Homo sapiens: one gene and its partners. The protein of the gene in region 3 interacts with the protein of the main gene of each other region in a pairwise test. Each region holds a gene or a part of one and is shown on either strand. Other genes may lie near its edges.

Region 1 (3,651 bases), about 50 Mb from region 3:
GGTGAGATGCTCTCTCATTGTAGGTTTTTTCTTTTTTTTTTTTTTTTTTTTTTTTGAGACGGAGTCTTGCTCTGTCACCCAGGCTGGAGTGCAGTGGCGCAATCTCGGTTTACTGCAACCTCCGCCTCCTGGGTTCAAGCAATTCTCCTGCCTCAGCCTCCTGAGTAGCTGGGATTACAGGTGCACACTGCATCACCACACCCGGCTAATTTTTGTATTTTTAGTAGAGACGTGGTTTCACCTTGTTGGCCAGGCTGGTCTCGAACTCCTGACCACGTGATCCGCCTGCCTCAGCCTCCCAAAGTGCTGGGATTACAGACATGAGCCAACGGGCCCGGCCCTCATTGTAGTTTTCATTTGCATTTTTCTGATGCTCAGTGATGTTGGCACCTTTTCTTATGCTGTCTGCCATTTGTATGTCTTCTTTTGAGAAATACCTACTCAGATCTTTCGCCCATTTTTAAATTGGATTATTAGATTTTTTTCATATAGAGTTGTTTGAGCTTCTTATATATTCTGGATATTAATCTCTTATCAGATGGATAGTTTGCAAATATTTTCTCTCATTCTGTGGGTTTTCTCTTCACTGTGTTGTTTCCTTTGCTCTGCAGAAGCATCTTAACTTGATGTGATCCCATTTGTCCATTTTTGCATTGGTTGCCTGTGCTTGTGGGGTATTACTCTAGAACTCTACCCAGTCCAATGTTCTGGAGAGGTTTTCCACTGTTTTCTTTTAGTAGTTTCATAGTTTGAAGTCTTCAACTTAAGTCTTTAATCCATTTTGATTTGATTTTTGTATATGATGAGAGATATGGGTCTAGTTTCATTCTTCTGCATATGGATATCCAATTTTCCCAGCACCACTTATTTATTTTGTTTGCAACAAAGAAAGAGTTTAATTGTCACAGGGCCAACCAAGTGAGGAAGACAGTAGATAATTCTCAAATCTGCCTCCCTGAGAATTCGGGGGCTAGGGTTTTTCAAGGATAGTTTGGTAGGCAGTGGGCTAAGGAATGGGGAATGCTGATTGGTTGGGTCTTGGATAAAATTGTAGAGAGTTGAAACTGTCTTCTTGCCCTGACTCAGTTCCTAAGTAGTGGTCACAGAACCAGTTGAGTCAGTTTCTTCATATGGGCTCCTGGTCCAAGTGGCACCAGTTGGTCCATCAAAATGCAAGGTCTGAAAGATACCCCAACCACCAGTTTTACGTTTTACAATAGTGATGTTATCTATAGGAGCAATTGTGGAGGTTGCAAAATTCTTGTTACTTTTGGCTACATAACTCCTAAACAATAATTCTAACCTCGTGTAATTTTACAAAGATGCTTTTAGTCTCTGAGCAAGGAGTGGGTTAATTTTGGGAAAGGACTGTTAATCATCTTTGTTTTAAAGCTAAACTTTAAACTGAATTTCTCCCATAGTTAGCATTGCCAACACTCAGGAATGAGCAAAGAGCTTGTGAGATTAAAAGCAAAGATAGGGCCAGGCGCAGTGGCTCATGTCTGTAATCCCAGCACTTTGGGAGGCGGAGGCAGGCGGATCACCTGAGGTTGGGAGTTTGAGACCAGCCTGACCAACATGGGGAAACCCTGTCTCTACTAAAAATACAAAATTATCCGGGCGTGGTGGTGCATGCCTGTAATTCCAGCTACTCTGCAGGCTGAGGCAGGAGAATTGCTTGAACCCAGGAGGTGGAGGTTGCAGTAAGCTGAGATTGCACCTTTGCACTCCAGCCTGGGCAACAAGAGCAAAAACTGTGTCTCAAAAAAAAAGCAAAGATGGAGTCAGCTATATCACGTTTTACTCACTGTTGTAATTTTTGCAAAGGTGGTTTCAAAAATATGCCTTTTTGGCATGTTGATTGTTGTGAGCTGGTTATCCTGAGAAACTGCAGATACAGGAGTAGTTCTGAAAAGTTGCCCTTTTTTAAGGGAAGTGTACGTTTGTAAAGGAGTATCTCTTTGACAGGGTGTCTCCCTCTCTGCACCAGGAAGAGAAGAAAGACTAGAAAGACTAAATCTCTAGAGACTGTCAATGCAGAAGGCATCAACTTAAGTCTGTACAGCAAACCTAACCTCTGCTTAAGGCACAGCACCATTTATTGAAGAAACTGTCTTTTCCTCATTGTATGTTATTGGCACCATTGTTGAAAATGAGTTTGCTGTAGATGTATGGATTTTTTTCTGGGTTCTCTATTCTGTTCCATTGGTCTGTGTGTCTGTTTTTATGCCAATATCATGCTGTTTTGGTTATTATAGCTTTGTTGTATGAAGTCGGGTAATGTGATTCCTCCCTTTTGTTCTTTTTTCTTAGGATAGCTTTGGCTATTCTGGGTCTTTGTGGTTCTACACAAATTTTAGGATTGTTTTTCCTATTTCCATGACGAATGTCATTGGTATATTGATAGAGATTACATTGAATCTATAGATTGCTTTAGGTTGTATGGACATTTTAACAATATTGATTCTTCCAATCCATGAATATGAATTATCTTTCCATTTTTTTGGTGTGTTGTCTTCAATTTCTTTCACCAATGATAGTTGTTTTTTTTTTTTTTTTTTTTTTTTGAGATGGAGTCTCGCACTGTTGCCTGGGCTGGAGTTCAATGGTGCAATCTCAGCTCACTGCAACCTGTGCCTCCCGGGTTTGCGCCATTCTCCTGCCTCAGCTTCCTGAGTACCTGGGATTACAGGCGCATACCACCACAGCTGGCTAATTTTTTGTATTTTTAGTAGAGACGGGGTTTCACTATGTTGGCCAGACTAGTCTTGAACTCCTGACCTCGTGATCCGCCTGCCTTGGCCTCCCAAAATGCGGGGATTACAGGCGTGAGCCACCATACCCGTTCAGTAGTTTTTATTTTAGAGATCTTTCACTTAATTTGGTTAATTCCTAGATATTTAATTTTATTTGTAGCTGTTGTGAATGGGATTACTTTCTTGATTTCTTTTTCAGATTGTTCACTGTGGGCATATAGCAGGGCTACTGATTTTTGTATGTTGATTTTTGTATCCTGCAACTTTTGTGAATTATCAGTTCTAGTCGTTTTTTGGTGGAGTCTTTAGGTTTTCCCAAATATAAGATCATATTGTCACCAGGTGTGGTGGCTCATGCCTGTAATACCAGCACTTTAGGAGGCCGAGGTGGGCGGATCACCTGACCAACATGGAGAAACCTCGTCTCTACTAAAAGTACAAAAAAAATTAGCCAGGCATGATGGCGCATGCCTGTAATCCCAGCTACTTGGGAGGCTGAGGAGGGAGAATTGCTTGAACCTGGGCGGTGGAGGTTGTGGTGAGCCAAGATCACACCATTGCACTCCAGCCTGGGCAACAAGAGCAAAACTCCGTCTCAAAAAAAAAAAAAAAAAAAAAGATCATATCGTCTACAAACAAGAAGAATTTCACTTCTTTGCTTGCTCTTGCTAGGACTTCCAGTACTATATTGAATAACAGTGGTGAAAGTGGGCATTCTTGGTGTGTTCAAGCTCTTAAAGGAAATCAGTTTTTCCCCATTCTGTATACTGACCATGGGTCTGTAGTATATGGCTTTTATTATGTTGAGATATGTTCTTCTATACCCAGTTTTTTAAGAGTTTTTATCATGAAGGGATGTTAGATTTTATCAAATGCTTTTTCAGCATCAATTGAA
Region 2 (3,651 bases), on a different chromosome or scaffold from region 3:
CATGCCTCCCTACAGCTGCCTTGGGGACTGGTTTCAGAATAAGAACTAGGTGTAACTCCAGCAAGGCCATAAGCAGGGAAACAGCTGTTTGTCTAGGTTTCTTCAGTTATGCAGGATAAACTTCCTGCTCTTTAAGGATCCAACAAGATGCATGTGGATGAAAAAATAAAACTTCACAGCTTCCACTGCCCAGGCACCCAGTAGTTAGATTTCATTTACCAAACACCCACAACGTGCTGGGGCTCTAAGGATGGGTGCCCAGCCACGGTCCCAGCCATCAGGAAGTAAAAACCATGGGATTTGGAGTCAAGTAGGCCTGTGTTCGAGTCTCTGCTCTGCCCCTTTTTGGTCGTGTGTCCTTGAGCAAGGTCTTCTGCACTGGGTCTGTCTCCTGCTTGTAAACCGGGGTCATAAGAGTATCTGCCTCAGCAGGGTGTGGTGGCTCACGTCTTTAATCCCAGCACTTTGGGAGGTCGAGGCGGGTGGATCACTTGAGGTCAGGAGTTTGAGACCAGCCTGGCCAACATGGCGAAACCCCATCTCTACTAAATATACAAAAATCAGCCACGTATGTTGGCGTGTGCCTGTAATCCCAGCTACTCAGGAGGCTGCGGCACGAGGATCATTTGAACCTGGGAGGATGCAATGAGCCAAGATTGTGCCACTGCACTCCAGCCTGGGCGACAGAGCAAGATGACTCTGTCTCAAAAAAAAAAAAAAAAAAAAAATCTGCTTCTTTGCCCTGAGACGAAACAAGGTGAGTTTTCTGTTCAATGCCTGGCACGAGATATGTGCTGTTAGTATTTTTATGGGTACGTTAGCATCATCCCCACTTTACAAAAGGGGAAACAGAGGCTCAGAGAAGAAGTGACTTGCCCACGATCACTGAGCTAGTAGGTACCAAGCTGGCACTGGAAGGCGGGTCTGCCTGACATGAAGCTCCTGTCTACCCTGCCTCTGAGAGCACCCCCTGGCATTCCTCACTTCCGTGTGAAGCTCTGTTCCGGGGCACCTGGATTGCCTGTATACCAGGAGTTGCCAATCACTGAGGCATCTCTGCGGAGGCCCACCTAGCTCTCCCGCATGGGGATGGCCGGTCAGGCAGGGTTGGAGTGGCCCTCCCCAACAGCCTGCCTCATACCTCGCTCTGCGCCAAGCTCACCATTTTTGACAAATGAGCAGACAGGCATGATGGCCTGGTGGCAGCCCCGGGTGCCTCTCACCAGCCTGATGGGCTGGATGTGAGAGAAGACTTCTGGGGGCCGCTCTCTGCGCCTGAGCACCAGGTGTCACGTTGCCGAGGCAGGTTCCAGACACCTGTCACATTCTGATCCAAAATCTGTCAAGGATCAGATGACAGGTTGTGACACAGGAGAACAGTTCGCTGGTTTGAGTGCAAAGCTGTCCAGGAGCTGAGCTGCACATTTCAGCGGCTGCCACAGCCAAAAATACACACAATGTATAATCAACGTGCTGTTCTGTGGCATTCTCCAGGGACTCGACAGGGTGTATTTTAGGCAGTATTCTATCATTATTGATTTCCTACTCGGGGGGACTGTGTTCCCTCCTTTCTATGTGGAAGGAATTGAGAGCTAGGAAGACAAAGACTGAGGGAATGAGGGCCGAAACACAGGAATTCGATGGAGGCGCTGCCCTGGCACATAGTAGGTGCTCATGACAGATCTGTTGAATAAAGGGACAGACCAGTCCGTCGGCTGGACCCCTGGCTCGGCCACTCACTAGCTGGATAACCTTGGGGGAAGTCTCTCTTCAGGCCTCAGTTTTTACATCTGTAAAATAGGGATAAGACACCTACTTCACAGGGAGGTGGGTGTGAGGATCAAGTGAAAAGAATCATTTGTAAAAGGCTTGCTTTAGTGGCAGCTTCCACTCAGCACAGGGGCTACAGACTCGAATGCCCACGGGGGACCGGGAGACACCAGGCAATGACTACAGAGTGCGGGGCGCGGGGAGGGACTGTGGTGACATGGAGACCGCACGCCCCTCTCCTGTCCCTTCACTGACGGCTGCTGCACAGCCACGGCAGCTAGGGGCCACCCGATCCTCTCATTCTGCAAGGGCAGCCAGATGGCTAACAGCCCATATTCACCAGGCCAGGTGGACTGTGTCCAGGGGGAGCCTGGGCTCTTTGGTTCCCTAAGCTCATAGCACACCAGACATTGTGCTTGCGTGTCACCCATGAGACTCCAAGCATTTTTTGTGTGTGTGTGAGACAAGGTCTCATTCTGTCGCCCAGGCTACAAACTTGACCTCCTGGGCTCAAGTGATCCTCCTGCCTCAGCCTCTCGAGTAGCTGGGACTACCGATATGTACCGTCATGTCTGGCTAACTTTTGTATTTTTTGTAGAGACAGAGTTTCACCACATTGCCCAGCCTGGTCTCGAACTCCTGGACTCAAGCAATCCACCTGCCTTGGCCTCCCAAAGTGCTAATACTACAGGTGAGCCACTGCGCCCGTCTAATCTGAGCATTCTTAAGACACTCTAGCGAGGCCACACGTCCAGCAGAAGTGGAGCTGGGATTCACACACAGGCCTGATCACACCCAAAGTACCAGGTCACAACCTCTACACTAGAATTATGCAAATGGCAGTGGATGGGGTTGCAATGATGAAAAAACAATGTTAGGATCTGTCTGACCCAAAGCAGGCAGTTGACAAGTAGTTGTTGAATGCACCCATGAAGTTAGCAATAGCAGGAGAGTGACCAAGAAGTCACCCCTGCACCGACAGAGCACTCTGCATCAGCCACATCCCCATCTACCTACGTGGGCCAGAGCTCCTTAGAAGTGACCCAAACCTGTTTCCATTGCACTTAGCACGAGCCAGGCCCTGGCCTCCCTTGCACTCTCCCAATTACTCGGAATCACCCAGGAAGAGGCCTGAAAATAAGATACGCTTATATGGCACGCACAGACCTGGGCCCAGCTGAGAGCATAGGCCAGAGGCAGGTCCTGACCTCTATGTGCTAGCTTCCGGGGGATTCTGAGCACAGCCAGATTGCAGAGCCACTGCCTTGGACAGTGGTGTGGACTCAGTAACCCCGGTTCCTGCAGACAGGCTCTTACTTCCAGCACGAGGTACTGCTCCGGGGCTGGGGCTTCCCCCATCTCTCCCAGCACGCGCTCACACTCCAGGGAGATGGCATCTATTGAGGTCAGGAGGGGGGCCACGATCTCTGGGAACTGGAGAAAAAAAGAAGGAACGGCTGGTGAGGCCTGGGGGCAGGCAGATGCAGGACAGCTGCCCCAGCAGTGGGGTGGAGGGAGGAGGTGTTCACACAGCCCGTGCCCATCCTCTGGGGAAACCACCTCTCTTCTGAGCCTGTTTTTTTGCCTTCCCAGCTGCAAAGTCAGTGTGTCTAACGAGCCCGACCACTGTCATTTTCCTGGCCAGGCTACGGGCACGGACGGTACCTTCTTTTCTGCCAAAACCACCTCCCTAAGGGCCCCCACCACCCACCACACCCCCTATAACCCATCAGCCAGAGGGAGACCTCGAAAATCCAGATGTAATTGTGTCCTGGCCTTCCTGAAACCTGCCCAAGAAGGGAACAAGAGTCACCTTGAGCAGCCTGTTTCTGACGCCAGCCACAAGGGCCCTGGTATTGCGAGGGACTTTGGTGTTGGTCA
Region 3 (3,651 bases):
TCAGGCCACAGGAAGTTAAGACTCAGCTTTACCATTATTATGTAACTGTAGCACGGAAAAGTCATGTCAATCTTACTTAAAAAGATTGTAATTCAATTTACCCAAAGGTGTTACTTCAGTTCAAGAGTAGAACTCCCTTTCTTTTACTAAGGAGTTCTTTTTGCTCCTTTTTGTCAGTCCTTCTTGTGTTTATGTCCTCAAAATAAAACTTACTATTCAGAGAACTAGATATAGCTCACCTACTGAGGAAACCTCAAAACTACTGAATTCCCAATAACCTACTTAAGAAATGCACAAGCATTTCCTGAAAGATGTAATTTACACAAAAGCAAATGTCCCTTTTTACAGTATCAGCCTAAGGCTTAGCAGTTCTTATACCAAATTTAAATATCCCATAAGCTTTATATTATGGAATATAAAACATAGCAATCATATTAACACAAAATTGGAGACTATCTTAAATGATGCCCCTAACTTTTGGCTTAGCCAAATGATTTCCTTTGGCCAATGAAATGTCGGTAGAAGTGACATGCCACTTCTAAAAAGAGGTCAGGAGTTCAAGACCAGCCTGGCCAAGATGGTGAAACCGCATCTTTACTTAAAAAAAAAAAAAAAAAAATTAGCCAGGCTTGGTGGCAGGCGCCTGTAATCCCAGCTACTTGGGAGGCTAAGGCAGAGAACTGCTTGAACCCGGAGGCAGACGTTGCAGTGAGCCAAGATCACGCCACTGCACTCCAGCCTGGGCAACAGAGCAAGACTCCATCTCAAAAAAAAAAAAAAAATTAGTGTGTGTGATGCAACTTGGAAACACGGTGTCTATGGTGTACATGTAAAAAGGCTAACAGGTAAGACACAGACTTTAAAAAGGAATAGAAAACATCAGTCAAAATTTCTGCACTTCCACATGGATTGAATTCTCCTCCTTAATACTAAACTAAATCTGGCTCTTCATTCAAGTTTATGAAATATTTTTCTTCTATATTCTTGGACTTTTATCAGGACTTGACACAATTATCATCTCTACTATAATAATGCAATGACAAAATAGATAGACACAGCATCTCTGTTTAATTTTTTCTTAGAATTCAAATACTCCTAATCTGAATTTAAGAAATTGAGAGGGAACAGGGAAATAAAGGAAAATTGATGCACAGGAACACACTGTTATAAAATTTTTTACAAAACAGGTTTATAAACTAAGTTTATATCTTAGTCAAGAACAAAAAAAAGAAATGTATTCAACCAATCTCAAACACACCCTTCCCCCAGAAAAGTATATCAACAATAAAAGAACCAATGAACAAAGTACCTTCTTTGCACAAAGAAATATTCTAGGTCCTTTAGTAGATACAAAAGATAAAACAAGATCCTTGCCGTTATGGAATTGAGCAGAAAAGATGTAAATAAATAAAAACATATAAGGTAAAAATATTAAGAACTAAATAGCAACATAAAAAGGAAGGAAAATTAAAAATAGTAACAGCATGTGTCTTTAGGCCTCAACATGAGCTATTCTTGGGAAAATCTGACAAAGTGGGCCTGAAATATATACTCGCTGTCCAAATAATACAATGTCAAAATTCATCCCTGCCAGAAGAAGCAGATTGGATTAGCAGACAGTGCCTATGATCTTAAACAAGGAACATCCAAAGCGTCAGTGTTCCTTCCATAAAGATAAGCTACACATCCACAATGAAGGAGAAAAGTGTATCAAGTGCTCTGCTTAGGGCTTGTTTAGAAAACCTGGTTGCTTGCTTACTCTTTTGTTATATGTGTCTCCCTGAACAAACTGATGAAAATTCGTCTCTCTGTATTGCCTCGTTAAGATGTCAGAAAGCTGAAATTAGAAGATCATTGTGGGCCCACAGTTTTATCCCAGGAAATATGCTAATAAGTACTGGGTCCTACATATCCCCCTGCACTTAGCACCCATTTAGTTATTCCCCAGAAAGGCTCAGTTGTGGACAAATTCGTTTCTGTGTCCACACCAACTGTCAAGCACATTAGATCAGTCCAAACCATGCAGATTACTAAAACCTCCCACCTTTAGGATTCTTCAATACAGTATCTTCCATCTGACCCCTCCACAAACAAAAACTCATGTAACTGCCCCCTCAATTAAATTTTTTTAAAACACTTCCAGCTGAAAAGTTTTGATGAAAGAGTCAAGAAACCCATACTTTAGATTCCTTGACTCCAAACTTCCAGTTCTCAAAATTCAGTTATTTCTTACTTTTATCAATACACTTACAGGGGCTCTCTTTTGATCTCGCACCAGTAGACAAACCTCCTGTCTCAAAAAATTACAGCCTACAATTTACTGAAGTCAAGAATTTCCTTTTATACAATAAATGCTTGTCCCCACCCTTTTCTGTGAGAAACAGGGTTTTTTTTGCGCCATCACCCAGATTGGAGTGCAGTGGTATAATCATAGTTCTCTGCAGGCTCGAACTCCTGGTCTCAAGCGATCCTCCCACCTCAGCCTCCTGAGTCACTGGAGTTATAGCCACAAGCCAGCATGCCTACCCCCTAGCCCTTCGTTATCAATTCTGTTAAGCTGGGAATTCTGTGAAACTGGTTCCCTTTTAAAAGTAATTTAGACAGACAGCCTTAGTCGGGGTAAAAACCTTCTGGCAAAAGTAAAAATTAATAATAAAATTCAACCTTGACAAATTATTTGATAGAAAGACAAAGATAGCTTGTAAAGATTGTATTTCAGTTATCAGCTACAGATTAAAAAGAAAAACACACCAACTTACCAACAACTAACGCTCCTCTTTCTGCAAAAGCCAGGGCATAGGCTCGGCCCAATCCTAATCAAAAACAAAATAATCAGAAAGTTGAAGAAATGTCAGCATAATTTTTTTGGTCCGCTCAACTCAATCCCCATTTAAAGAAATTGGTGAACAATTAATTACATTTTAATGATACTCTCAACCTATCCTATCACTGACATTCTCAACCTATCCACTCTCTTCTGCTTGCAGAGGCTGGAAAGCTTAAAACTGTATTTTTCCACCTATTCTACTACCACTTCCTACCATTCTACTTAGCTGCTAGGATGCTGTGAATTGGGTTCCACCATCTGATGCATCTGCATAAAACTTAGAAGGTGTAAGTGAGACAGAGACCACCTTACTGGGAGTTCTGGCTGTTGTTGTTAAGAAGCTAGTTTTCTTGAAAGTTCCTAGGTATTCAGAAACTGACTATAGCAGCGACTTCTTCATTCAGCTCCCTAATCCCTGGATGGCAGCTTCCATACTTCAGGTCCCTAGTGCCAGTGCTACTTGGGCTGTGGCACAGCTCCAATGACAGCCTCAGAGGTATTGCCTCCTCTAATGGATCAATTTCCTATTGTTTCAGGAGTTATTCTAAGAAGACCTGCCTAAAACCTAATTGCCTGTATTGAATCCTTTGCTGCTTAAAATATCTAGTGGTTTCTGTATCCCACAGTGAACCCTGACTACACAGTCATCAAATACAGAAAATATTTAATTCTGACTCAAAGCTACAAGGTGTAAATTTATATATCCAAAAAGAAATTATATATATATATATAGAGAGAGAGAGAGAGAGAGAGAGAGAAAGTTTTGCTTTTTTTCTTTTTTTTTGAGATCCAGTCTCACTCTGTCGCCCAGGCTGGAGTGCAGT

What was found.
Region 1: the proteins of HSD17B4 (region 3) and CDK7 interact in a two-hybrid assay, tested with the Homo sapiens proteins (one large-scale study listed by BioGRID and IntAct).
Region 2: the proteins of HSD17B4 (region 3) and MVK come close enough for resonance energy transfer, tested with the Homo sapiens proteins (one large-scale study listed by BioGRID).

Annotation. Positions count from the first base shown.
Region 1 is NC_000005.10:69,241,284-69,244,934, forward strand, and holds part of CDK7 (cyclin-dependent kinase 7), read left to right. Parts: intron 1-3,651. UniProt on the Homo sapiens protein: Serine/threonine kinase involved in cell cycle control and in RNA polymerase II-mediated RNA transcription. Cyclin-dependent kinases (CDKs) are activated by the binding to a cyclin and mediate the progression through the cell cycle.
Region 2 is NC_000012.12:109,590,794-109,594,444, reverse strand, and holds part of MVK (mevalonate kinase), read right to left. Parts: coding exon 3,584-3,651; intron 3,205-3,583; coding exon 3,088-3,204; intron 1-3,087. UniProt on the Homo sapiens protein: Catalyzes the phosphorylation of mevalonate to mevalonate 5-phosphate, a key step in isoprenoid and cholesterol biosynthesis.
Region 3 is NC_000005.10:119,455,477-119,459,127, reverse strand, and holds part of HSD17B4 (peroxisomal multifunctional enzyme type 2), read right to left. Parts: intron 2,814-3,651; coding exon 2,760-2,813; intron 1-2,759. UniProt on the Homo sapiens protein: Bifunctional enzyme acting on the peroxisomal fatty acid beta-oxidation pathway.